5 separate regions of the Homo sapiens genome follow, and all the other regions are linked to region 2. Evidence: fine-mapped expression QTL. A gene starts in region 2. Each other region holds a variant in brackets. All regions are shown on one strand. Distances are between the middles of the regions. Region 1 overlaps EXD3 (exonuclease 3'-5' domain containing 3). Region 2 holds the start of EXD3 (exonuclease 3'-5' domain containing 3). Region 3 overlaps EHMT1 (euchromatic histone lysine methyltransferase 1). Region 4 overlaps EXD3 (exonuclease 3'-5' domain containing 3). Region 5 overlaps LOC124902318 (a long non-coding RNA gene).

The links. PIP is the estimated chance that this variant, and not a neighbour inherited with it, causes the effect.
Region 1: its variant is the best candidate, but not a certain one, in a credible set for the expression of EXD3 in whole blood (TOPMed, PIP 0.71).
Region 3: its variant is the best candidate, but not a certain one, in a credible set for the expression of EXD3 in whole blood (INTERVAL, PIP 0.73).
Region 4: its variant is the best candidate, but not a certain one, in a credible set for the expression of EXD3 in cerebellum (GTEx, PIP 0.59).
Region 5: its variant is the best candidate, but not a certain one, in a credible set for the expression of EXD3 in CD4 T cells (BLUEPRINT, PIP 0.89).

What each region holds. Positions count from the first base shown.
Region 1 is chr9:137,356,232-137,361,332 of GRCh38, forward strand. It overlaps EXD3 (exonuclease 3'-5' domain containing 3), which reads right to left. Exons shown (of 22, transcript NM_017820.5): 8 at 37-137. Among named protein-coding and RNA genes, the nearest start is that of NRARP, 57 kb to the left of the region's middle. The variant T/G (reference allele first, on the strand shown) is at 2,132.
Region 2 is chr9:137,420,005-137,425,105 of GRCh38, forward strand. EXD3 (exonuclease 3'-5' domain containing 3) reads right to left here and starts at 3,158. Exons shown (of 22, transcript NM_017820.5): 1 at 3,110-3,158. It overlaps NOXA1 (NADPH oxidase activator 1), which reads left to right and starts at 3,389. Exons shown (of 14, transcript NM_001256067.2): 1 at 3,389-3,702. The coding sequence starts at 3,526. It also overlaps the pseudogene LOC124902354. RefSeq lists silencers at 2,750-2,889, 2,900-3,039, 3,060-3,619.
Region 3 is chr9:137,802,545-137,807,645 of GRCh38, forward strand. All of the region lies in intron 18 of EHMT1 (euchromatic histone lysine methyltransferase 1), which reads left to right. Among named protein-coding and RNA genes, the nearest start is that of MIR602, 33 kb to the right of the region's middle. The variant G/A (reference allele first, on the strand shown) is at 2,847.
Region 4 is chr9:137,319,245-137,324,345 of GRCh38, forward strand. EXD3 (exonuclease 3'-5' domain containing 3) reads right to left here. Exons shown (of 22, transcript NM_017820.5): 18 at 4,846-4,899; 19 at 4,481-4,612. Among named protein-coding and RNA genes, the nearest start is that of NRARP, 20 kb to the left of the region's middle. RefSeq lists enhancers at 1-442, 1,077-1,711, 1,712-2,345. The variant G/A (reference allele first, on the strand shown) is at 2,551.
Region 5 is chr9:137,594,911-137,600,011 of GRCh38, forward strand. The region is part of intron 1 of LOC124902318 (a long non-coding RNA gene); the gene reads right to left. Among named protein-coding and RNA genes, the nearest start is that of ZMYND19, 6.9 kb to the left of the region's middle. The variant C/T (reference allele first, on the strand shown) is at 2,833.

The DNA of each region.
Region 1 (5,101 bases), 64 kb before region 2:
TGGCCTGTGGGGCAGGAATGTGGGGGCTGGACTCACCTGGGGCTACGCCGTACCGCTCCTGCAGACGCAAGACCTGCCTGCTCAGCGCCTTCGGACTCAGCTTCTCCAGGCTCAAGGAGGTCACCTCAGGGTACCGTCTGTGGGGAGAGAGAGGCACAGCCTCTGTTGCTGTTTTAAGTTAATACATTTTAAGATTTTCATTTTCATCATAGTCATATGCATGCATAGTTTAAACCTCAAGTGAGGTTTATAAGAAAATGCAGGCGTCACCGCCCCCCGCCCACCCCATCCTTAGCACTTGGAGGTCGACATTGAAATGGTTGTGTATTTGCCTCCACATTTCCAGATAACATCCTTGGATTGTGATCTCTTGATTGTTGACTTCTGGGTATTTGGTATTGACTTCTCCCCACGGAAGGTGGACTCCCGAAATAACAGTATTAGAGTTTTAGCTAAATCAGCACCTTCCTCACTGGTGATATTCTGGCTGTGCAACGGCCTCAACGGCCCAGCCTTCTGCTGCTGCTTTCAGGGTTAATGCTTATCTGGCTCTGTTGTTTCTCAGTTACCCATCCTGGTCCCTTGATACTTGGCTCCTCCTGCCCCTCCAGCCACTCTCTAGCTCCTGCCCTGCAAGGTCCTGGGACTGACACCCCCATGCCCTGGTCCACACCCTCCGACCTCCAGGTAGTGGTGAAGCACAGCCGCTGGGTGTTTCCCAAGATAAGGTCCACGGGGTATTTTTGGAGATGTGCACCTCCAGGGTCTGTGCCCGCTGCACACCAGCTTGAGAGTTCAGTGGAGCCAAGACTTCTGGGTTGAGATAACGTTCCCTTAGCACAGGCAGGCTTGGCTCCCAGAACTGCTGTTGAGACCCCAGAACCCATTCCTATTCCTGCCCCTCTGATGTGGCCTGCTCTTCTGGAGGTTTTGAGGCTCTTCCATTTTCACTAGTGTTGAGAAACTTCATGACAACGTGCCCCACAGGGGGTCTCTCTCCACCCACCTTTGGCCACTCCACAAACCTGTTAAGTCCGGCTCCTGTGGGGGCTCCCGTGGCCTCACATCTGGAAACCTGTCAGCGATGAATTACTTAGGAGTTTCCTTCCCTGCTCTCCCTTCTTCCTGGAATCCCAGTTATTTGTATGTTGGACCTTCTTGACAGAATCTCCAATTTTAAACATCTTTTCTCTTTGATTTTCCTTCTCTTTATGTATTTTGTACTGCTTTTTGGAAGACAACTTCAAATTATTTCCAAACCTCCCACTGAGCTTTCATTTCCCATCCTGTCCTTCATCCACCAAGTTCTGTCCTACAGTCTGAAAGCTCTTTCTGTGGGGCCCCCATCTCCACTTCACAGACGCAGTATCTTAGTTACAGCATTTGTGCTTTTAAGGTTTCTTTTGCTTCCTCCAAGCTCCAGCTTAGTGTCTGTATTAGGGTTCTCTAGAGGGACAGAACTCATAGGATATATATACATATATATATTATATACAGGATATATATATATGTGTATATATATATAAAGGTGAGTTTATTAAGTATTAACTCACACGATCACAGGGTCCCACAATAGGCCATGTGCAAGCTGAGGAGCACAGAGAGCCAGCCCGAGTCTCAAAGCTGAAGAACTTAGAGTCTGATGTTCGAGGGCAGGAGACGTCCAGCATGGGAGAAAGATGTAGGCTGGGAGGGTAGGCCCATCTAGCCTTCTCATGTTTTTCTGCCTGCTTTATATTCCAGCCTTGCTGGCAGCTGATGAGACGGTGCCCACTGAGATTAAGGGTGCGTCTGCCTCTCCCAGTCCACTCAGTCGGAGGTGAATCTCCTTTGGCAACACCCTCACAGACACACCCAGGATCAATACTTTGCATCTGTCCATCCAATCCAGTTCACACTCAGTGTTAACCATCCCAGTGTGTTAGTGTTAGCATGCGTGTGGCTGGCGAGAGGCCCCACAGCCCTAACTGCTCCTGCCCAACACTGCCCTGCAGAGGAACCACCTCCCTGTGTGCACGGCGTGGCCTGGTAGCCCTGGAAGGCCAGAGGTGCTGTGGGCTGAGAAGCGTCTGTGCACCTCCAGCAAGGGTCTCACCTGTGTCCTCCTGGTTTCAGCACGGAGCCCCAGCCC[T/G]GTCCTCAGCTGTGGCCAGAACACCGTGCCGCTCACAAAGACCCCCTGGAGACCCTGTTTCCAGCCCAGCTTCTTGGAGGAATCTGGGCCTCCACTTCCTGTGCCTCCCGGGGGCTCCGAAGCCAACTGGCTCCTTGCATTTGCAGGTTCAGCACTCTCAGGCCTCCGAGGACAGTCGCTGCCTGGACATCTGTCTTCCGGGTTCCAGCTCCCGTCTCCCCTCTTATTCTCTTGAAATTTTTGTCTTCATTTTAAAGCAAAGAGGCAATAGATGCTTGTGTTTAACTGCCACTTTAAACTGTAACTCCTACTTAAAACTTTTTTAAAATTAAATGTATATATTTGACACAGGATCTCACTCTGTCCCCCAGGCTGGACTGCAGTGGTGTGATCAAGGCTCACTGCAGCCTCAACCTCCTGGCCTCAAGTGACCCTCCCACCTCAGCCCTGAGTAGCAGGACTATAGGCATGCCCCACCACGGCTGGCTAATTTTTGTATTTTTTGTAGAGACGGGGTTTTGTCACGTTGCTCAGGCTGGTTTCAAACTCCTGGCCTTAAGCGATCCTCCCACTGCACCTGGCAAGGCCTACTTTTTTTTTTTGAGGCAGAATCTTGCTCTGTCGCCCAGGCTGGAGTGCAGTGGTGCCATCTCGGCTCACTGCAAGCTCCGCCTCCTGGGTTCATGCCATTCTCCTGCCTCAGCCTCCAGAGTAGCTGGGACTACAGGCGCCCGCCACCACGCCTGGGTAATTTTTTGTATTTTTAGTAGAGATGGGGTTTCACTGTGTTAGCCAGGATGGTTTCACTGTGTTAGCCAGGTTAGTCTCGATCTCCTGACCTCATGATCTGCCTGCCTCGGCCTCCCAAAGTGCTGGGATTACAGGCGTGAGCCACCGTGCCCGGCCAAGGCCTACTTTTTAAGATAAACTATTTACTGAGGTATAAGTGACACACGGTAAGGTATGCCAATCATGGGTGCAAATGCACCGGTAAACCCACTGCCCAAATCTCAACATAGAACGTTCCAGGCCAGGTGCGGTGGCTCACGCCTGTAATCCCATCACCTTGGGAGGCTGAGGCAGGAGGATCGCTCGAGCCGAGGAGGTTGAGTCTGCAGTGAGCTGTGGTTGTGTCACTGCACTCCAGCCTGGGTAACAGAGTGAGACCCTGTCTCTAAAGTAAAATGTAAATAAAGGACATTCCAGCACCCCAAAGTTTCTCCCGTGTCCATCTCTGTGTATCCCCATCCCACACTTCTCTGACTTCTATGGCCAGAGATTATTTGCCCGATTTTGAACTTGATGCAAATGGAATGATAGAATAGGGACACTTTGCCACTTTTGGATCTGGCTTCTTCCATGCAGTCTCTGTCCACGCTGCTGAGTGTGACGAGGTTCAGTCTCTCACAGCTGAGTTTGTGAACCGTGATCACTGCATCCACTGCTGCTCTGGGGACTAGGGCTGCTCCCGTGTTTCACAGATGATGATTAAGCTGCCATGACTGCGATCTTTTGTGGATAATGAGCTCATTTCTCTCGGGCATATGCTAAGTGGACTCGGACAACATATGTCATAGGGTTGGCATACTTTTTTTGCTTTAGTAGAAACTGCTAAATAATTTTCTGAAGTGTCTGCACCAGTGCACATCCCACCAGCAGTGCGTGAGGGTTCTGGTTGCTCCATGTCCTTGTCACCACTTGGTATGTTCGACTTTTAAATTTTAGCCTTCCTGATGGGAGGTGGTGGTATTTCTTTGTGGCTTAATTTGCATTTCCCTGATATTAATGGTGCTTAGCAACTTTTCCTACATTGGCTATCTGGATATCCTCTTTTGTGATGTGCTTATTCAAGGCTTTTGCTCATTTAAAAACTTGGTTTGTTTTGTCTTTTATTGTTTATTTGCTTTGTAGGTTTTTTGCTTAAAAATACTCTGGATACAGTCTTTTGTAAAATATGTACTGTAAATAATCTTCTCTTGGTCTGGAAGTTGCCTTTTCACTCTCTCAATGATTTCCTTTGACGTCCAGAAGGTATTAAGTCAAATTTGTCAATCTTCTTCTGTTATTCTCTTTCTTTCATCCTTCCTTCCTTTTCTTCTTCTTTTTTTTTTTTTTTGAGATGGAGTCTCGCTGTGTCACCCAGGCTGGTGTGCAATGGCACGATATCGGTTTACTGCAATCTCTGCCTCCCAGATTCAAGTGATTCTCCTGCCTCAGCCTCCTAAGTAGCTGGAACTACAGGCATCTGCTACCATGCCCAGCTAATTTTTGTATTTTTAGTAGAGACGAGATTTCACCATGTTTGCTAGGCTGGTCTGGAACTCCTGACCTCAAGTGATCCGCCTGCCTCAACCTCCCAAAGTGCTGGGAATACAGGTGTGAGCCACCGCACCCAGCCTTTATTCTTAGTGATTTTATATCCTATTTGAGAAAGCTTTATTGCAAGTATAAAGAAATACAATTGGCTTTTATAAACTTACCTTGTAACCAGTGATCTTGCTAAATTTACTTATTAATTCTAATAATTTATCTGTAGATTTTTTGGTTTTCCTTCCCTACATATAAAAACATATCTTCTGAGAAAATGACAGTTGTTTCTTTGTACCCGGTCTTTGCACTTATTTTCCTGCCTTCCCGCCTGGCATGGGTCCTTGGTACAGTATTGAATAAAAACAGCAGTTCTCAGACATTAGGCAACAGGTGGCTCAGGGCAGTGATGCCCGAGTGATGGGAAGCGAGGCTGCCAATCGCTCCATCTTCCCTCCTGGAGAAACTTCCAGCAACATGCGAGGGAAGGGGAACCCAGGAGACACTGGGTGCTTCCCTGAGTTCGCAGAGAAGAGATGCCCAGAAAAAGAGCTGTGGAGCTCTGCAGGGAGCGCCCTTGAGAATTCGCCCAAGTAAAGAGCACCCTGCGTGTGAGGAACTCACACAAAGCAGAGGAAGGGCCACCTGAACACATTACAGGGA
Region 2 (5,101 bases):
AAAAAATTAGCCGGGCATGGTGGCAGGTGCCTGTAGTCCCAGCTACTCGGGAGGCTGAGGCTGGTGAATGGCGTGAACCCGGGAGGCGGAGCTGGCAGTGAGCCGAGATTGTACCACTGCACTCCAGCCTGGGCGACAGAGGGAGACTCCGCCTAAAAAAAAAACAAAAAAAACCCCAGCAAATTACATAGAACTGAACTGATAGAGGCCTGAAATGCTTTTTATGATTTTTTGTTGTTATCGAAACCTTGCTGACTCTTTTTATATTTTGTTTTCCAGAGTCAGAAAACCTTTTTCTTTTTGAGCTATTTATAGCTATAGCAATTGAGTGACATATACTTTTGTGAGCAAAACTGAAATATTTGTCTTTTTCTCTACCTGATTTCTCAAAAATCTGGAAGCGATTCATGAGTATTCTTATTTTATGGCAATGTAGTTCTTTGCATGAGTTCAGTAAGAATCTGTTGTCCTTGTAACAGGACACAATTGGAGACCCTGGTTATTCTACCAAGGCTTGGACTGGGATGACGTATTTTTGGATATGACGAGACTGCTTTGAGGAATCGAGGTTCGCTTTATAGAGCCAATAAAAAGCCCCTTGGGATGACTGGACTGGTGCCCTGTTTACATAGTTCCCTTAAAAGGTTCTTGGCCTTGAGGTAAGGAAAGAATGTCACTTTCCGACAGATCCAGGAACTTCAAGATAGTTTGGGACCTGGAGGACAGACATTCACCCCCCCCCCCAAATTCATACAGGTATTATACATACACTGTGATGGGGAGCCACTGGCTTGGCTTCCTAGACATGGGAAGTGTTTGTTTTGTTTAGAGACAGGGTCTCGCTCTGTCACCCAGGCTGGAGTGCAGTGGTGCGATCATAGCTCACTGCAGCCTCAATCTCCTGGACTCAAGCGATCCTCCCATTTCAGCCTCCTGAGTAGCTGGGACTACAGGTGAGCACCACTATGCCCAGGTAATTTTTAAATTTTTTGTGGAGACAGGGACCTCGCTATGTTGCCCAGGTTGGTCTCAAACTCCTGGGCTCAATGAATCCTCCCACCTTGGCCTCCCAAAGTGCTGGGATTACAGGCATGAGCCACCATGCCCAGCCCTCAAGTGGCTTTTAAAGGTCTATTCTGACCCTCTTGTAGTTCATAAGCATGATGATTGCCTCATGTGTAGGGTCTGTCTCCTTCAAACGCTGTTATGACGCCAGCACATTACCTGTCTGATGTGGGGAAAAAAAGTCTGAAATTCCTTATGGCAAAGTTCCAGCCAGTTTAGAAAGGAGCCTATATGGCCAATCACCACTGTTGTACTTTAGGCAAATAATCAGGCCAAATATAATCCTAAAATTTATTTTACAAGTAAATTGGTCTTACCAAGATTTATCTTTGGTAGAAATGGGGAAGTAGAGAAAAATTATGTTTCAGAGAAAAACTACAGCATACCTGTTACTGGATTCTAGCCCTGATCATTGTATTTTTTATTTTCCTACAATCTGGACTAAATCCTGAACAATCTTCTGGCTACAAGTCTCAAAGAAGAACCTGGCTGGGCAGAGGTTCACACCTATAACCCCAGCACTTTGGGAGGCCCAGATGAGAGGATCACTTGGGCTCAGGAGTTCGAGACTAGCCTGGGCAAGGTGTCAAGACCTAGTCTCTACCAAAAAAATTTAAAATTAGCCGGTCCTGGTGGCAAACACCTGTATTCCCAGGTACTCAGGAGGCTAAGACAAGAGGATCATTTAAGCCCAAGAGTTCAAGGCTGCGATGAGTGGGAATCGTGCCTCTGCACTCCAGCATGGGTGACAGAGCAAGACCCCATTTCTAAGTAAACAAATAAATAAAAAGAAAGAAGAACATGGATTTTAGTTTCTTCATGTTTTTAGTTGTCTCCCTAATGGAACAGGTTTGTTTTTTTCATCCTGGCATACAAATTGGTTATAGTCCTATGTGTTACTTCTGAGAAAATTAAAATTAATGGTGTTTCTAAAAACTAGAGATGATTCAACAGGTGACAGCAGTTGTATAAATTAATGACTTCACTGAGACCTCATGTTTGCCACCCTGTAATGCCATTCCAATTCAGTTTGTGGTGTTCTTAAAAAAAAAAAAAAAAAAAAAACTCCCTGAAATGTCTCCTCCTTCCCTGCTTGGCATGGGACAGGACTATGTGGGAATGAGCCTTCCCAGCAAGAGGGGACACTCTGACCCTCAGATTTTGATAATCAATGCTTTCAAGAAGAAAGATTTTGATCAAAAGGGGGGCAAATGAGAAAGAAAAAAATCATTTATCTGAGGAATGTAAAGCCCTTTTAAACTGTGGGCCCAGAAAGCTTGATGTTAAGTGCCAGAAAGCATTTCAAATGAAACCGCAGCCCCTCACTACCCCTCGAGCCAAGTAACTATCCACTGATGACACCAAGCCGTGGTCAATCGCGAACCAATGCCATTTCTACAAGCCAGTGAGCTCCTGGGCAACGTTCGAAACCACCTGCTCTCCGATGGGCTCTGTTTTCTTTAAAAACCTGAGCCTCTGTTTTGTTCTCCGTTGCACCTGGTGACCCAGGCCGCCCTCGACCTCTGTGCCTGAATAAACCCACCGGGCACCACATTCTGACCCTTTTAATTATTTTAGGTTGACAACTAATACAGGACTCAGCGCCGGTGGACAGGAAGCCAGGGCCCCTGCAGGGAGGCGCCCGTCCCTTCTCCCGGGGAGGGCAGGGCGGGCGCGCGCGCGTCCCACCGGGAGCGCCTCCTCCTCGGCGAGGGAGCGAAGGGCCTCCGGGTCCTGTGATGTCCGTGCTCGGAAGGCGCGGAGGAGGGCAGGCCCTGCGGGACAGGGCGGCGGGGTCGCCGGGGTCGGCTCAGCTCCCCGCGGCGTCCGGCTGCTCGGCGGCCTCCGGAGCGGGGCCCTGCGGGAGAACGCACCTTCCCCGCCCCATCGGGGCCTCAGTTTCCCCACCCCGGGAGAGCCGGCGGCCCGCCCCCGGCTCACTCCCAGCTACGGCCCTCACCTCAGGACGCGCACCCGGCCCGGCCCCGCTCTGCCCCCGGCGCCCAGACCGCCCACCTGGCCCGCGCGGCCCGGGGTCGCTCACCTGCGGGGCCGGGACCGCCCCACACCGTCCACGCCCGGCGCGGAACCTTGGCCCGACCGCAGCCGCTGGCCCGGAGGGCTTTATCCGGCGCACCAAGGCCAGCGCGGGCGGGGCGAGGAAGCCGGGCGCACAAAGCTCCCGGCGGAAGTCCGGCCGGGGCGGGGGCCGAATGGGAGGTGGGCGAGGCCTGAGGGTCTGGAGTGGGCGTAGCCGTTTCTGGCGGGGGCGTGGCCTTACCGGGGAGGGGCGGGCGCCTGCCGCCAGGGGGCGCCGCGGGGCAGCGGGGTTGCACCTGGCGCTTGGCGCCCGCACCTCTGCCCGCCTCGGAGACCCCGCAGCCCCGCGCCGCCGCCTGGCCCCGGCCCCGGCCCCTCCGCGGGATCCTGGCCCCTCCTCGAGCGCCGCCACCGGCCGCCATGGCCTCTCTGGGGGACCTGGTGCGCGCCTGGCACCTGGGCGCGCAGGCTGTGGATCGTGGGGACTGGGCCCGCGCCTTGCACCTCTTCTCGGGCGTCCCGGCGCCGCCCGCCAGGCTGTGCTTCAACGCGGGCTGCGTGCACCTGCTGGCCGGGGACCCCGAGGCCGCGCTGCGGGTGAGCGGGGCGTGGGGAGGCCGGTGCGGGCGACGCCTCCGCCTCGAGCCCCTGGGGAGGGCCCAGCGCCCCTCCCCGACCGTCACGGGGTCGCCCTGCCGCCCCCGACCCAGCGAACGCCCCGGCAGGTGGGAGCCGAGCAGGGGGGCCGCACCTGAGCTAAGCGAGGCCGCGCTGGGGGGCGCGGCGGTCACCGGGAGAGGCCGGGGCCCGAGGGTGACTCACACCGGGAAGGGGGAAGCTGCTGGGCTGGGTCAGGCCCGAGGGACCGCCCTGCCCTAAGGGGAAAGCGTTGCGCCTGTGGTCATGGCCGGGAGACCGGGTCAGTCTCCTCCTCAGAGCCCTCAGCCCTCCCCCAGCCCACTCCCCGAAACAGCCAGGAGTCCAGGGTGCCAGGGTGCAGCGGCCGAGGCCCTGCACGGAGCCCGGTGCCCTTCTCGTGCCCCCTCGCGTTCCGGGGCCGCCTGTTCCTGCGCATCCCAAACGCCAGCGCTGCCCACCCCCGCTCAGTCCCAAGCACCCCGCAGAAGCAGGCAGGTGCCCACGGTTACTGAAGGCTCGGTGACAGCAGTGATTTAAAGGAGAGGGAACTGCGCGCTGTGGGAGGGTCTCCACGCCCCTGACTGGCAAAATATCCCCCTTGGAGGAGACTGGGCAAAGCGCATGAGACCCCCCTCTCTTGTGTCTTAAAGCTGCGTACAAATTTACAATCACCTCCATAATGATTTCATTTTTTTGTTTGTTTCAAAGATGGAGTCTCGTTCTGTCACCCAGGCTGAATGGAGTGCCGTGGCCCAATCTTGGCTCACTGCAACCTCTGCCTCCCGGGTTCAAGCAATTCTCCTGCCTCAGCCTCCCTAGTTGCTGGGAGTACAGGCGCCCACTACCACGCCTGGCTAATTTAGTATTTTTAGTAGAAACGGGTTTCACCATGTTGGTCAGGCTGGTCTTGAACTCCTGACCTCAGGTGATCCACCCTCCTCGGCCACCCATAGTGGTGGGATTACACATGTGAGCCACCTTGTCCGGCCCACAATGATTTCATTTTAAAATGTTATCCAAGAAAGGGAATGTAATCTTTAGACACCAGGTGGTTCAGCAACAAATCCTATGTCCGGGGCTAACCCAGTCACTTGTGCTCTTGTGCCTGGTTTCACTACAGAGAGGGGACGCAGTGAAAGTCATACGACTAACCCACAGCATATGCATGTTAGGAATATGGGAACTTAGGAAAGCAGATGGAACAGCTATGATTCATAAAGCCGATCACGTGAGGGGCAGCCCAGGGTGCAGAGGGTGTCGCTGGAACTGCTGTCTCTTGTTAGGAGCCTTGCGTGACGTTTGGGGCAGACAGGTGGGTTCTGCTGGCCCTGAGCCGCCACCCCACATCAGGGCTGCG
Region 3 (5,101 bases), 380 kb after region 2:
GTCTGAGGAGGGAGGGCTGACACTTCCTCTCAGAGCTTGAGAACGGCGTGGGCACGGGCCCTTGCCATTCATTGTTGGCACGGGGAGGTCTGCATTTGGAACCCCTCGCTGCATGTAAGCAGACCCCACCTCCCACCTAGAAACAGGGACCACTGGCTGTGGGCACCCGCTGCCTCCCTGCAGGCACGCAGGCCTCTCTGGAGTGACTGGTCCTGAGCTGCAGTGCCTCCTCCGTGGGCTGCAGGGCTTCCATGACTGTATCCAGGGGGTTTCTACCTCATTCCACCGGAGTTCTTTCCCACTGCGGGTTAGGATGACGGCACCATGAAGAGAGGAGCCCTGAGCCGGCAGAAGGAAGAGAAGAGGGAAGCAGAGGAGCCCTGAGCTGGTGGAAGGCTGTGGCGGGTACCTTGGAGGAAGAGAGGAGGGAAGCAAAGGCAGAGAACAAGGCAGAGGCCACCCCCAGGTGGGGCCACCTCACCCACCGCCCCCGGAGACTGCGTGGCGGGGAAGGCGGCCCTAGTGTGGCTGGTCGGCCTGCATGCCTGGGCAGTTTGCAGCCTGTCCAGGTGTCAGAGCTGTTAGCTCTCTGATGCTGGTGGCTGTTCCCCCAGAATGGAAGCATTGATTAAATTTCAAGTTTGTTATTTATACAATGAAACACTTCATTAATTTAACCACTTTATTGCTGTATAATAGGTAGGCTGCATATATTCAAAGTACACACTTGGGTGAATTTTCACCCAGAAGCCATTGTTGCTGTCGGAAGAGTGAGCCCAGTCCTCCCTCATGCCCTGATGATCTTCAGGTGATCCTCCGCGCTTCACAGCCATGCCCAGCCCACCCCTGCCACCCATTGCTGGGCTTTCTGTTGTCTGCGTGTCTCGGTTTTATAGAAAAGGGCTCTCACCATGGGCAGCTTTCCCTCGCGTCCTTAAGCCGAGATCCCCATTTTCGTTGCCTGAAGTGCCCATTGTGTGAATGTGTCTGTTTACCCTTCACCTATCAGTGGACATTAGGTTGTTTCTGATTTTTGGTGGTTACTAAGAGAGATGCTGTGAATACTCATGCCTTCATTTTTCTTGATTAAACCCCTGGGAGTAGAATGGTTAGAACATATGACAGGTGTCTAGGCTTAACATTTTCAGAGACTGCCAGTAGCCAGGCATGGTGACACACACCTGTGGTCCCAGGTACTCGGGAGGCTAAGGTGGGAAGATCGCTTGAGCCCAGGAGGTCAAGGCTGCAGTAAGCTGAGATCGCACCACTGCACCCCAGCCTGTCTCAAAAATTAAAAAAAAAAAAAAAAACCTGCCAAACTGCTTTCCAAGTGATTGTACCATCTCTAGTGTATGAGAGTGCATTCATCCGTTCTCACACTGCTATCAGGGTTCTACCTAAGACTGTAATTTATAAACAAAAGAGGTTTAATTGACTCACCCTTCAGCGTGGCTGGGGGGTCCTCGGGAAACTTAACAATCATGGCAGAAGGTGAAGGAGAAGCAAAGCACGTCTTACATGGTGGCAGGAGAGATTGAGGAGCATTGTACCACACTTTAAAACCAGCTCTTGTGAGAACTCACTCACATGAGAACAGCATGGGAGACCCACCCCCATAATCCAATCAGGTCCCTCCCTTGACACATGGGGATTACAATTCAAGACAAGATTTGGGTGGGGACACAGAGCCAACCCATATCAGACAGTCCTGGTTCCTCCGCATCCTTCCCAACACTTAGCATGGTCAGTCTTTAACTTTTATCCATTTTAATAGGTGTGTAGTGATATCTTGTGGTTTTAGTTTTCAGTTCATTTCATTTCTCTAATGACAGTTGATGTTAAGCATCTTTTTATGGGCTCATTTACGATCCATATATCTTTTTTAATGAAGTGTCTGTTCAAATATTTTTCTTGCTTATTATTGGGTATTCTGGAGTTTTAAGAGTTCATGTTCTGGATATAAGTCCTTTATCAGATATATGGTTTACAGATCTGTCTTTGGAAGTGCAGAATTTTAAAAGTTTTTATAAAGTTTGGTTTATCAACGTTTTTCTTTATTTTTAACTGGATCCTGTTTTTGGCGTTCTGTTTAAGAAATCACTGCCTAATCTGAGAACCCAAAGATATTCTCCCACATTTTCTTATACGAGTTTTATGGTTTGGGGGTTTACATTTAGGTCTGTGTTTTATTATAGTTGACTTTTGTATGTGGTGTGAGGTATGGATTGAACTTTTTTTTTTTGGCTTATGGATGCCTAGTTCAGTGCCATTTGTTGAGAAAACCATTCTTTCTACATAGAATTGACTCTGTACCATTGCCAAAAGCCAGTTGTCTGCATTTGTGAGTCAGTTACCCATGTGTTATTCCACATGTGTCAGTCATTTGCATGTCTGTCAGTCATCCATGTATGAGTCCGTCCATGTGTGTCAGTCATCTGCATGTGTGTCCACATGTGTCAGTTGTCCATGTGTGAGTCAGTCATCTGCATGTCTGTCAGTCGTCCACATGTGTCAGTCCACATGTCTGTCAGTCGTCCACATGTGAGAGTCTGCATGTGTGAGTCAGTCATCTGCATGTGTGTGTCTCTCATCCGCATGTGTGAGTCCATCATCTGCATGTGTCATTCGTCCACGTGTGAGTCGTCCACGTGTGAGTCATCTGCATGTCTGTCAGTCGTCCATGTGTCAGTCCACATGTGTGTCAGTTGTCTACATGTAAGGGTCAGTCATCTGCATGTATGAGTCAGTCATCTGCATGTCTGTGAGTCTGTCGTCCACATGTATGAGTTGGTCATCCATGTCAGTTGTCTGCGTATGTATCAGTCATCCGCATGTGTGAGCCAGTC[G/A]TCCACATGTCAGAGTCAGTTGTCCACATGTGTGTAAAGTCAGTCGTCCAGATGTGTGTGTCAGCTCCAGGGCCCTCTCTTTTGATGCATTGATCTGCATATCTGCCTTTAGGCAAGTACTGTCCTTTCTTGACTGATGTAGCTTTACAGTAGGTCTTGCAAAATCATTTTTCTCCTCCCAAACTTGATACTGCTATTCTCCTATATTTTACACATATATATGTTCTGAACACCATAATAGCCATGTAGTTATTCTGTTTAAACAGTCAGTGGTCTTTTTTTTTTTTTTTAAGATGGAGTCTTGCTCCGTCGCCCAGGCTGGAATGCAGTGGCATGATCTTGGCTCACTGTAACCTCCGCCTCCCGGGTTCGAGCTATTCTCATGCCTCAGCCTCCTGAGTAGCTGGGATTACAGGCACGAGCCACCACGCCTGGCTAATTTTTGTATTTTTAGTAGAGACGGGGTTTCACCATCTTGGTCAGGCTGGTCTCAAACTCCTGACCTCGTGATCCACTCACCTTGGCCTCCCATAGTGCTGGGATTACAGGTGTGAGCGACTGTGCCCGGCCTGGTTTTTTCTTTTTTTTTTTGGAGACAGTCTCACCCTGTCACCCAGGCTGGAGTGCAGTGGTGCGATAGCTCACTGCAACCTCCACCTCCCTGGTTCAAGCGATTCTCCTGCCTCAGCCTCCCAAGTAGCTGGGATTACAGGCACATGGCACCACGCCTGGCTAATTTTTGTATTTTTATTAGGGATGGGGGTTTCACCATGTTGGCTAGGCTGGTTTCAAACTCCCAACCTCAGGTGATCTGCCCGCTTTGGCCTCCCACAGTGCTGGGATTGCAGAAATGAGCCACCACGCCCAGCCGAGTGGTCTGTTTGAAAGACTGCAGAAGAGCTCTGCAGTTGCTCCTGCCATCCCCATCCCTGTCCCTGCCACGCTTCTCCACCTTGGTGGGCTCATGCTCCTGATGTTGCTTCCCTTCCGCTGGCCTCACTCCCTTTACCTTTTCTGTGGTGTTGGTCTGCTTGTGATGAGCTCTTGCAGCTTTTTTTTTTTGAAATGGAGTTTTGCTCTTTCACCCAGGCTGGAGTGCAGTGGTGCTATCTTGGCTCACTGCAACCGCCTTCTTCCAGGTTTCAGGCGATTCTCCTGCCTCAGCCTCCTGAGTACCTGGGATTATAGGCGCTGGCCACCACGCCCGGGAAATTTTTGTGTTTTTAGTAGAGATGGGTTTCACCATGTTGGCCAGGCTGGTCTCAAACTCCTGACCTCATGATCCGCCCGCCTCGGACTCCCAAAGTGCTGGGATTACAGGCGTAAGCCCCTGTGCCCAGCCCTCTTACAGCTCTTTAATGCCTGGAAAGTCCTTATTTTGCTTTCATCTTTGAAAGATATTCTTAGAATTCTGGATGCGTAGTTATTTCTTCCAATGCTTTAAATGGCGGTTTCCCTGGGTCCTCACCTGCAGTGTTTGCAGTGAGAAATCCAGTGCCACCACACAGTTATTTCTCTGTGTATAATGTGTCTTTTTTATATGGCTGCTTTTAAAATGTTTTTTCTGTATCTCTTGGTTTTAGCAATTGGATTTTCCTCTAAGCCTTAGTTTGTCTGTAAAGCAATTTGATTACTGAAGTGCTTTGGTGTTATTTTGTGTGTGTGCACGTAGGGTTCATTGAGCTTCTTGGATCTGTGGATTTAGGGTTTTTGACAAATTTGGAAATTTTTCAGTCATTATTTCTTCAAATAATGTTTTCTGCCCACCACGCTTTCCAGTATTCCAGCTGTGTATGTAGGAGTTCTCAGAGTGGTTCCACAGCTCACTGGTGCTCTTTTCAATTTTTAAATTATTATTTTTTCCCTCTGTGTTTCAGTTGAGCAGGTTTTTGTTGGTTTGTCTTCTAGTCCACTCATCTTTTCTTCTGCACGTGATGCTGTTGAGCTCATCCGGTCTGTGTGCTTACATTCTAGGCATTGTCGTTTTCAGCTCTAAAAGTTCTGTTGGAGTCTTTCAAACATTTCCTAACATGTTTCTACTTAACTTTCGAACCTATAGAATACAGTTATACCAATGGCTTTATTTACTTATTTATTTATTTATTTATTTATTTATTTATTTATTTGTTTATTTTAAGGCAGAGTTTCACTCTTTTGCCCAGGCTGGAGTGCAGTGGTGCAATCTTGGCCCATTGTAACCTCCGCCTCCCAGGTTCAAGCCATTCTCCTGCCTCAGCCTCCCGAGTAACTGGAAT
Region 4 (5,101 bases), 100 kb before region 2:
TGGGTCATAGCCAGCCGAGCCCTGCACTGTGGCTGCGGTGGCAGGCCCGGGGTCTGCAGCTGCGTGGAGCTGGGCCTGCGTGGTCCCGGGGCCCGGCCTCCATTGTTTTGCCCGTGCCTACCTCTTTGGCCCTGAGGATGGGCCTCTCTTCACCTCTGGGGTAGGGATGGGGCAGCCAGTGTGTGGGGTGGCCGATCAGTGGTGTTCCCAGCTGCCTGCTCAGGCCAAGCTCCCAGGGTTCAGCTGGGAGCACTGAGGCTGCAGTGCTGCTGGAGTGGGTGGTGGGAACGTGGCCTGAGCCTGCCCAGCCCTAGGAAGAACTTTCTAGAGCACATGGTCATCACGGATGTGTGGCTTGGGGCCCTGGCCCTCCAGGCCCTGAGCACCTCTCGGGACTCCAGAGCCAAGGAGGCGGGTGCGCACATGGGACCCTGGGCTGTGGGCATTGGGCCACCACCCGGCTGAGGCACTTGTGCAAAGCAAGCTCCATTCTCCCACCTGGTGACCTGGAAGGCTGGCTTCAAATGTAGACATCTCAGCTTCTCATAGACCCCTTTCTTGCTCTCCTGGCCCCATCGCACTGGCCCTGAGGGACCCTTGTGCACATGGGGGGCCCTCTCCCAACAGCTCTCTGTCACCTGCCCAAGGGCATCCTGCTAGGGCCCAGCAGGGTCCCCAGCCCCAACAAGGGCCTCCCTCCCACCTGGGCTCCGACCTGAGGCCGCATGTGGCGCATACACGTGGGGCTCTGCATGGACCAGCACCCGCTCCTGCCAGCCCTGCACCAGGGGGTTCAGGTTCTGGTGTGGCTGCCAGCATGTGCTCTGCTCCCAGGCCGGGGCGGGCAGGGGGAACGCTTGGTTCTGTCCTCACCGCACACCACCCAGCATCTGCGGGATGTGCACACAGAGACGCATATGTCTGCAAGGCCCCTGGCCGGGCAGTCCGTGGGGCCAAGGCAGCCCCCCCGCCCCTTCCCCACGTCCTGCCCCCAGACAGAGGGGCTGGCACAGGTGGCAGGTCGCTGCCTGGGGCTGCAGCCAGGGCCCAGGGTACCCTCCAGGCCAAATTCCCCGCCGGCTGTTTGCAGTCTTTCAGATCCAGATGCTCCTTCCCTCACTGCCTTGGTCCTGGACAGCTGGCGCTGCCCTCTCCAGCCTGGACAGTTGCTGGCCCCCCACGGGGGTGCAGCTCTGGCCTTAGCCCCTCCCAGGCCTGCTCTACCTGCAGCCCCCCTGGGCCTGGCGCTCCTGCTTGCCACAGCAGGGGCAGCTTGGGGGTTGCAGGGTGTGGGTGGCAGAGTGGCATCAGCAGCTTGGAGCTGCCAGTAGCCAGCAAAGAGGCAGGGCGGACATGGGTCAGGGCGGCCCCCACTGCTCAGCCCCCGACGCCCCCATCCCATCCACTCAGCCAGGCCAAAGTCTGCCCTTCTGCCTCACACCCTGGACACCCTTCTCCATGCAGGGCTTGGCGGCCCCTCCATGCCTGGCCTGGGTCCTCAGGGGCACTCCCCAGCACCCGGCTGGCCAGGGCTCCAGCAGGGGTTTCCTCCCAGCTACCCAACTTCCTGTTTTCTCAAGAAAATGCAGCAGCCGATTCTGAACAGCTCATTAACATGCCTCCCCAGGCGTCCCGGACATCCTGGGGTCTTTACAGCGCTTGCTGGCCTGAGCACAGACAAAGAGAGGCAGCGGACGCGGTTCCTGCCGCCCCTGGAGCCCAAGGCTGCAGGAGAGGCCCCTGGAGCACACTTCCTTGCCACCTGAGGCAGAGGCCGCGGTCCCCGCAGGGCAGTGGGGTCAGAGGGTCAGACTGCACCCCCAGGCCAGGGGCAGTGGGAGGTCCAGGGGCCTGTGTGTACAGGTGCCTGGCCGGCTGCAGATCCGAGCCGAGCCGGAGCTTTCCCTCTTTCCTTCCTGCTTCAATCCCCGCCAGGCCCAGCCTGAGGCTGTGGGGGCAGAAGGGCGGTAGCAGAAGGCGCAGGCCTGCATCTGTTTCTGCTCAGCCAGGTGGGTGCCCTTGAGGACCATGGGGTGGAGCTGAGCTCAGGGCCCCTCCCTGCCCAGCCCAGGCACCAGCAGGGACCCTGACAGTGGCCTCCATGAGGGGATCTCCCTCCATGAGGGGGTCCCAAAACTTCCCCCAGAATTGGGCTTGGGAGGCTGGGATTACTCACGCCTGTCATCCCAGCACTTTGGGAGGCTGAGGCAGGAAGATCACCTGAGGTCAGGAGTTCAAGACCAGCCTGACCAACATGGTGAAACCCTGTCTCTACTAAAAATACAAAAATTAGCCGCCCGTGGTGGTGGGCACCTGTAATCCCAGCTACTCAGGAGCCTGAGGTGGGAGAATTGCTTGAACCTGGGAGGCGGAGGCTGCAGTGAGCTGAGATTACATCACTACACTCCAGCCTGGGCGATGGAGTGAGACTCCGTCCCACCCCCAAAAAACCCCAGGAAACAAAACTGGGCTTGTTGGAGCAGCCCCGACCTGCTGCTCCAGGCGGAATATTGATGTGGCCCTAACTGCGGAACGTTCTGGAAGCAGCCC[G/A]TACCCTCCACCGGGAACTGCCGAGAGCCAGCACAGCCCACAGTCCCCCTTGCTCCCGTGTCGCCCACGGAGACCCTGGCGCCTTGAGTGGAGGCGCAAAAGGCAGCATCAACTCCCCCCAGACTGGCCATGCCCAGGTGCCAGTTGGTGTGGGGCATAGCAAGCTTGGACAGTGCAGCCCTGGGCAGGTGCCTCAGCCCAGTCCCCCACTGGGGACAGGAGAGGAGGGAGAGAGGTGAGTTGGGCTTTGGTGCCCCCACCAGCCTCCTCTATGGATCTCCACCGAGGTGCGGCAGTTCCCACTCAGGGCTTCTGTTGCCCAGACCTTGTTAGACGTCACCAAGCAGACGCAGGCTGTCCTGCGTGTTGCCTTTGGAAAGTGGGACCCACCCAGCCTGAAGGGACTTCCACAATTTCCCTCGATTCCTTCTAGAAGCCCCATGGGAGCCAGAGGGAATTCCCCAAATCCAAGCCAATGCCTGATTGGAGCTGTCCCCGTGGCCATGCCAGCCTGCACTAGGGATGCTCTGCCGACGCCTCACCCTGGACCAGGGATTCTCTGCCGACACCTCACCCCGGACCCACAAGGGATTCTCTGCCAACATCTCACCCCAGACCCACGAGGGATGCTCTGCCGACACCTCACCCCGGACCCACGAGGGATGCTCTGCCGACACCTCACCCCGGACCACGAGGGATGCTCTGCCGACACCTCACCCCGGACCACGAGGGATGCTCTGCCGACACCTCAACCCGGACCACGAGGGATGCTCTGCCGACACCTCACCCCGGACCACGAGGGATGCTCTGCCGACACCTCACCCCGGACCACGAGGGATGCTCTGCCGACACCTCACCCCGGACCCCCGAGGGATTTTCTGCCGACACCCCACCCCGGACCCCCAAGAGATTCTCTGCCGACACCCCACCCCAGACCCACGAGGGATGCTCTGCCGACACCCCACCGCGGACCCCCGAGGGATTCTCTGCCGACACCCCACCCCGGACCCACGAGGGATGCTCTGCCGACACCCCACCCCGGACCCACGAGGGATGCTCTGCCGACACCCCACCCCGGACCCACGAGGGATGCTCTGCCGACACCCCACCCCGGACCCACGAGGGATGCTCTGCCGACACCCCACCCCGGACCCACGAGGGATGCTCTGCCGACACCCCACCCCGGACCCACGAGGGGTGATCTGCCGACACCCCACCCCGGACCCACGAGGGGTGATCTGCCGACACCCCACCCCGGACCCACGAGGGGTGATCTGCCGACACCCCACCCCGGACCCACGAGGGGTGATCTGCCGACACCCCACCCCGGACCCACGAGGGATGATCTGCCGACACCCCACCCCGGACCCACGAGGGGTGATCTGCCGACACCCCACCCCGGACCCACGAGGGGTGATCTGCCGACACCCCACCCCGGGCCCACGAGGGATGCTCTGCCGACACCCCACCCCGGACCCACGAGGGATGATCTGCCGACACCCCACCCCGGACCCACGAGGGGTGATCTGCCGACACCCCACCCCGGACCCACGAGGGATGCTCTGCCGACACCCCACCCCGGACCCACGAGGGATGCTCTGCCGACACCCCACCCCGGACCCACGAGGGATGCTCTGCCGACACCCCACCCCGGACCCACGAGGGATGATCTGCCGACACCCCACCCCGGACCCACGAGGGATGATCTGCCGACACCTCACCCCGGACCCACGAGGGATGATCTGCCGACACCTCACCCCGGACCCACGAGGGATGCTCTGCCGACACCTCACCCTGGACCACGAGGGATGCTCTGCCGACACCCCACCCCAGACCCACCACTGTCTAGGGTGGGGCCCACCTCCCTGGACACCCCCGTAGCTCCAGATCTTGTGCCAGCCCCAGGTAGGACGGGGTGCGCAGGACCCACCTGGCAGCGGCTGAAGATGTCTGCGTGGGTGACACGCACGTTGAAATGCTTGAGCACAGCCTTGGCCTGCTGCTGGGCCTTCAGGGAGCAGTCGACCGAGAGGCAGCGCCCAGCCCCGACCTGGGCCCGGAGCTGCAAAGACACGGCTCGGCTACTGAGGGGCAGTGCAGAGCCCAGCACCTGCCCAGGCCCAGCCCGCCTCCGCCAGCATGGGGCAGGAGCCTTCTCTCGGCCCACCAGGGGTACGGCAGAGGCGCTGGGGGTCGGCCCCACGGCAAGCTGACCCTGAGGTGGGGGTGGCCGAGGGGCTGGGGGCTTGGGAAGATGGGGCTCAGGCCCACTGAGCTTATCTTTGGGACACTCACCTTGTGGAATGGCTGCCCCGACGTCAGAATGATCCTCCCCTCCTGCCTGGCAACCTGTGTGGGAGGTGCGACCAGCACATAAAGGGGGCAGCTCCGTGCTCCTGGACTGGGCCACCTCTGCTCGCCACCCCCTAGCTCCCCGGATCGTGGCCCTGCCCCAGGCCCCTTTTGTCCTCCAGGGTGGCCTCTGCCTGGGGTCTTGGGTGGTGAGGAGCCCTCTGCCGGGTCCTGGGTGTCGCCTCATTGTATAGATTTA
Region 5 (5,101 bases), 170 kb after region 2:
GAGATGCTGCAAAATCTGAACCTTGTAAGCACTGACATGACACTCAAAGGAAGTGCTCATTGGAGCATTTTGGATTTTGGATATGGAAAGCGCCATCAGGCAAGTATAATACAAAGAGTCCAAAATCCAAAATCTGAAACACTTCTAGTCCCGAGCATTTTGGATAAGGGACACTCGACCTCTCCTGGTAAGTGGTGATGTTTGGACCTGTGGTGGAGGGGTGTGTATGTCAGGATGGGCCTGGGTATGCTGCAGTAACAACCCCAAGTTCTCAGCGGCTTAGCCAAATAAAAATGTGTTACTTATGCTACATGTTAAGGTTACAAGGCAGTTGAATGTATAAGTAGAATATGTGAGTATAGAGTTCACAGAGATGTCCAGCCTGGGAATATAAGTTTGGCATCATGGCTGAGCGCGGTGGCTCACGCCTGTACTCCCAGCATTTTGGGAGACCGAGGCGGGCAGATCACGAGGTCAGGAGTTCAAGACCAGCTTGGCCAACATGGTGAAACCCTGTCTCTACTAAAAATACAAAAATTAGCCGGATGTGGTGGTGCGCACCTGTATTCCCAGCTACTCGGGAGGCTGAGGCAGGAGAATGACTTGAACCTGGGAGGCAGAGGTTGCAGTGAGCCAAGATCATGCCGTTGCGCTCCAGCCTGGGCAATAGAGTGAGACTCTGTCTCAAAAAAACAAAAAAAAAGTTTGGCATCATTAGCACATTTATTATATTTAAAGCTCTCTTAGAGACAGGTGCAGTGGCTCACACCTGTAATCCCTGCACTTTGGGAGGCTGAGGTTGGTGGATCGCTTGAGCCCAGGAGTTTGAGACCAGGCTGGGCAACATGGCAAGATGCTGTCTCTACAAAAAACAAAAATTAGCCAGGCATAGTGGCCCATGCCTGTAGTCACAGCTACTTGGGAGGCTGGGGTGGAAGGATCACCTGAGCCTGGGGATGTTGAGGATGCAGTGAGCTGTGATGGGGCCACTGCCCTCCAGCCTGGGTGACAGAGTGAGACCCTGAATTTTGGAGGGACACAAGCATTCAAACCATGGCAAAACTCATAAAACTGGATGAGATTACCATGAGGGAAAACGTGGATGTAGAGAGTGCAGCACTATTCACAAGAGCAAAGACATGGAATCAACCTAAATGCTGGCCAGCCCGGTGGCTCAGGCCTGTAATCCCAGCACTTTTGGAGGACGAGGCAGGCAGATCACCTGAGGTCAGGAGTTCGAGACCAGCCTGGCCAACATGGTGAAATCCCATCTCTACTAAAAATACAATTAGCTGGGTGTACTGGCAGTTGCCTGTAATCCCAGGTAGTTGGGAGGCTGAGACAGGAGAATCACTTGAATCCGGGAGGTGGAGGTTGCAGTGAGCCAAGATCATGCCACCACTGCAGTCTAGTCTGGGCTACAGAGTGAGACTCCATCTCAAACAAACAAACAAAAACCTAAATGCCCATCAGTGACAGATTGGATAAAGAAAATGTGGTACAGCCGGGCACAGTGGCTTACGCCTGTAATCCCAGCACTTTGGGCGGCTGAGGCGGGTGGAACACCTGGGGTCAGAAGTACAAGACCAGCCTGGCCAACATGGTGAAACCCCATCTCTACTAAAAATACAAAAATTAGCTGGGCGTGATGGTGTGTGCCTGTAATCCCAGCTACTTGAGAGGCTGAGGCAGGAGAATCGCTTGAGTCCAGGAGGTGGAGGTTGCAGTGAGCCGAGATTGCGCCATTGCACCCCAGCCTGGGCGACAGAGCGAGACTCAGTCTCAAAAAAAAAAAAAAAAAAAAAAAAAGCTGTGGTACATATACACCATGGAATACTATGCAGCTATAAAAAAATGAGAGCATGTCTTTTGTGGGAACATGGATGGAGCTGGAGGCGATCATCCTTAGCAAACTAACACAGGAACAGAAAACCAAATACCACATGTTCTCACTTACATGTGGGAGCTAAATGATGAGAGCTTATGAACACGAAGAAGAAAATAATACTGGGCTTAATGCCTGGATGATGAGATAATATGTACAACAAACCTGGTGACAGGTGTTTACCTATGTAACAAACCTCACATATCCCCAAACCTAAAGTAAAAGTTTAAAGTTAGGCCGGGTGTGGTGGCTCACACCTGTAATCCCAGCACTTTGGGAGGCCGAGGTGGGTGGATCACCTGAGGTCAGGAGTTCAAGACCAGTCTGGCCAACATGGCAGAAACCTGTTTGTAAACCTCTACTAAAAAAACAAAAATTAGGGCCAGGGCGGTGACTCACACCTGTAATCCCAGCACTTTGGGAGGCCGAGGAGGGCGGATCACCTGAGGTCAGGAGTTCGAGACCAGCTTGACCAACATGGAGACACCCCATCTCTACTAAAAATACAAAAATTAACCAGGTGTGCTGGCAGGCACCTGTAATCCCAGCTACTTGGGAGGCTGCAGCATGAGAATCCCTTGAACCCAGAAGTTGCAGTGAGCCAAGATCATGCCACTGCACTCCAGCCTGGGCGACAGAGGAAGATACTATATCCAAAAAAATAATAAAAGTTTACATTCAATAAATAATTTTTTTTTTTTTTTTTTTTTTTTTTGAGATGGAGTCTCGCTCTGTCGCCCAGGCTGGAGTGCAGTGGCGGGATCTCGGCTCACTGCAAGCTCCGCCTCCTGGGTTCACGCCATTCTCCTGCCTCAGCCTCCCAAGTAGCTGGGACTACAGGCGCCCGCCACTACGCCCGGCTAATTTTTTGTATTTTTAGTAGAGACGGGGTTTCACCGTTTTAGCCGGGATGGTCTCGATCTCCTGACCTCGTGATCCGCCCGCCT[C/T]GGCCTCCCAAAGTGCTGGGATTACAGGCGTGAGCCACCGCGCCCGGCCAAAATAAAATTTTTAAAAGGATATTTACATCAGTGTAGTATGTGAAGTAAACAAGAAAAAGATAAAACTCACTTTTTAAGTAAAAACAGTCATGTGCTTGAAGTATGTTGTAATCTTTATCAGAAAAGTATGGGAAGTTATTATTATTATTATTATTATTATTATTTTTTGAGACAGAGTCTTGCTGTTGCCTAGGCTGGAGTGCAGTGGTACGCTCTCTGCTCACTGCAAGCTCCGCCTCCTAGGTTCTCACCATTCTCCTGCCTCAGCCTCCGGAGTAGCTGGGACTACAGGTGCCCGCCACTAATTTTTTGTATTTTTAGTAGAGTCGGGGTTTCACCATGTTAGCCAGGATGGTCTTGATCTCCTGACCTCGTGATCCGCCCGCCTCAGCCTCCCAAAGTGCAGGGATTACAGGCATGAGCCACCGCGCCCGGCCGGGAAGTTAATTTTTAGTTTTTAAAAGTTCTATGGTATTTATTGAAGTTTATGTATTATGACTATAACAGCAAAAAATGCACATTACATTTCTTTAAAATGCTAGATTGAGTATCATTTAAAAAAAGAGAAGGGATACTTAATACTATCATACTAAGGGGGAAAGAGATTGGAAAGAAGAGGACTCAGTAGAAAACAAAGATGTGAAGTAGGAGGAAGGCCTGCAAGGCAGCCCCAGCTGCTGCTGGGTCTGGTAAAGTGAAGATTGGGGATGAATCAATGGATTTAGCAACACAGGGGACCCCCGTTACCTTGAGAAGTACAGTGCCAGTGGAGGGGTGAGGGAAGATGTCCAAGGGTGTCGGAAGGAATGAGGGACAGGAGTTGCAGGCTGAGATGGACGGCTCTTCTGCAGCATTTTGCTGAAAAGGAGCAGTGAAGGGAGCTGAGGCTGGAAGAGGGGGGAGGTCAGGAGCACATTCGTGGTGCAGGGGACATGGCACTGATGTTCACCCATGGGGACGATGGTGGAAAGGGATGAGGCATTGGCTGCAGAGGAGAGGGGATGACGAGCTGTGTCGGACAGGGCGGTGCACCTTGGCAGTAGCCAATGTGAAGGTTCTAGAAAGGCTAGTAGGTGTGTTGGTGGGAGTTTGGGGAAGTTCTTTTTTTTCTGGGGTGAAAGGGTCCCCCTCTGTCTCCCAGGCTTTAGTGCGGTGGTGCAAATACGGCTCACTGCAGCCTAGACCTCCTGGGGTCAAGCAATTCTCCTGCCTTGGCCTCCCAAAGCATTGGGATTAGAGGCGTATGACACTGTGCCGGGCCAAGAGAGTTTATTCAGATCATCTTTCTTTTGTTACTTTCACTTTCTCATAAATAACTGAAAGAAGTCAATTGGCCCTTTAAACTCTATGTCAGGAAAGTCAGATCACAGCATGCACTTTCTGTCCGCCACGTTCCACAGGCAATGGTCTTGCTGGAAGGTAAATAGTCTACACTTTCTCCAGCCTGCAATAGCAACTTTCTCATGACCCCTCCTGCTGCATGGTTCCAAAGTCAACGCCATATTTAAAAATTTTTGGGGCCAGGCGCAGTGTTTCACACCTGTTATCCCAGCACTTTGGGAGGCTGAGATGGGCAGATCACCTGAGGTCAGGTGTTCGAGACCAGCTTGACCCACATGGAGAAACCCCATCTCTACTAAAAAAAATACAAAATTGTCAGGGCATGGTGGCTCACGCCTGTAATCCCAGCACTTTGGGAGGCCGAGATGGGGGGATCACAAGGTCAAGAGATCGAGACCATCCTGACTGACATGGTAAAACCCCATCTCAACTAAAAATAAAAAAAAAAATTAGCTGGGCGTGGTGGCACATGCCTGCAGTCCCAGCTACTCAGGAGGCTGAGGCAGGAGAATTACTTGAACCCGGGAGGTAGAGGTTGCAGTGAGCTGAGATTGTGCCACTGCTCTCCAGCCTGGGTGACAAGAGCAAGACTATGTCTCAATAAATAAATAAATAAATAAATAAGCCGGGCATGGTGTTGCATGCCTGTAATCCCCGCTACTGGGGAGGCTGAGGCAGGAGAATCGCTTGAACCCGGGAGGCGGAGGTTGCAGTGTTGGCCTGGCGCAGTGGCTCATGCCTGTAATCTCAGCACTTTGGGAGGCTGGGGCAGGTGGATCACAAGGTCAGGAGTTTGAGACCAGCCTGGCCAATATGGTGAAATCCCGTCTCTACTAAAGGTACAAAAATTAGCTGGGCATGGTGGTGGGTGCCTGTA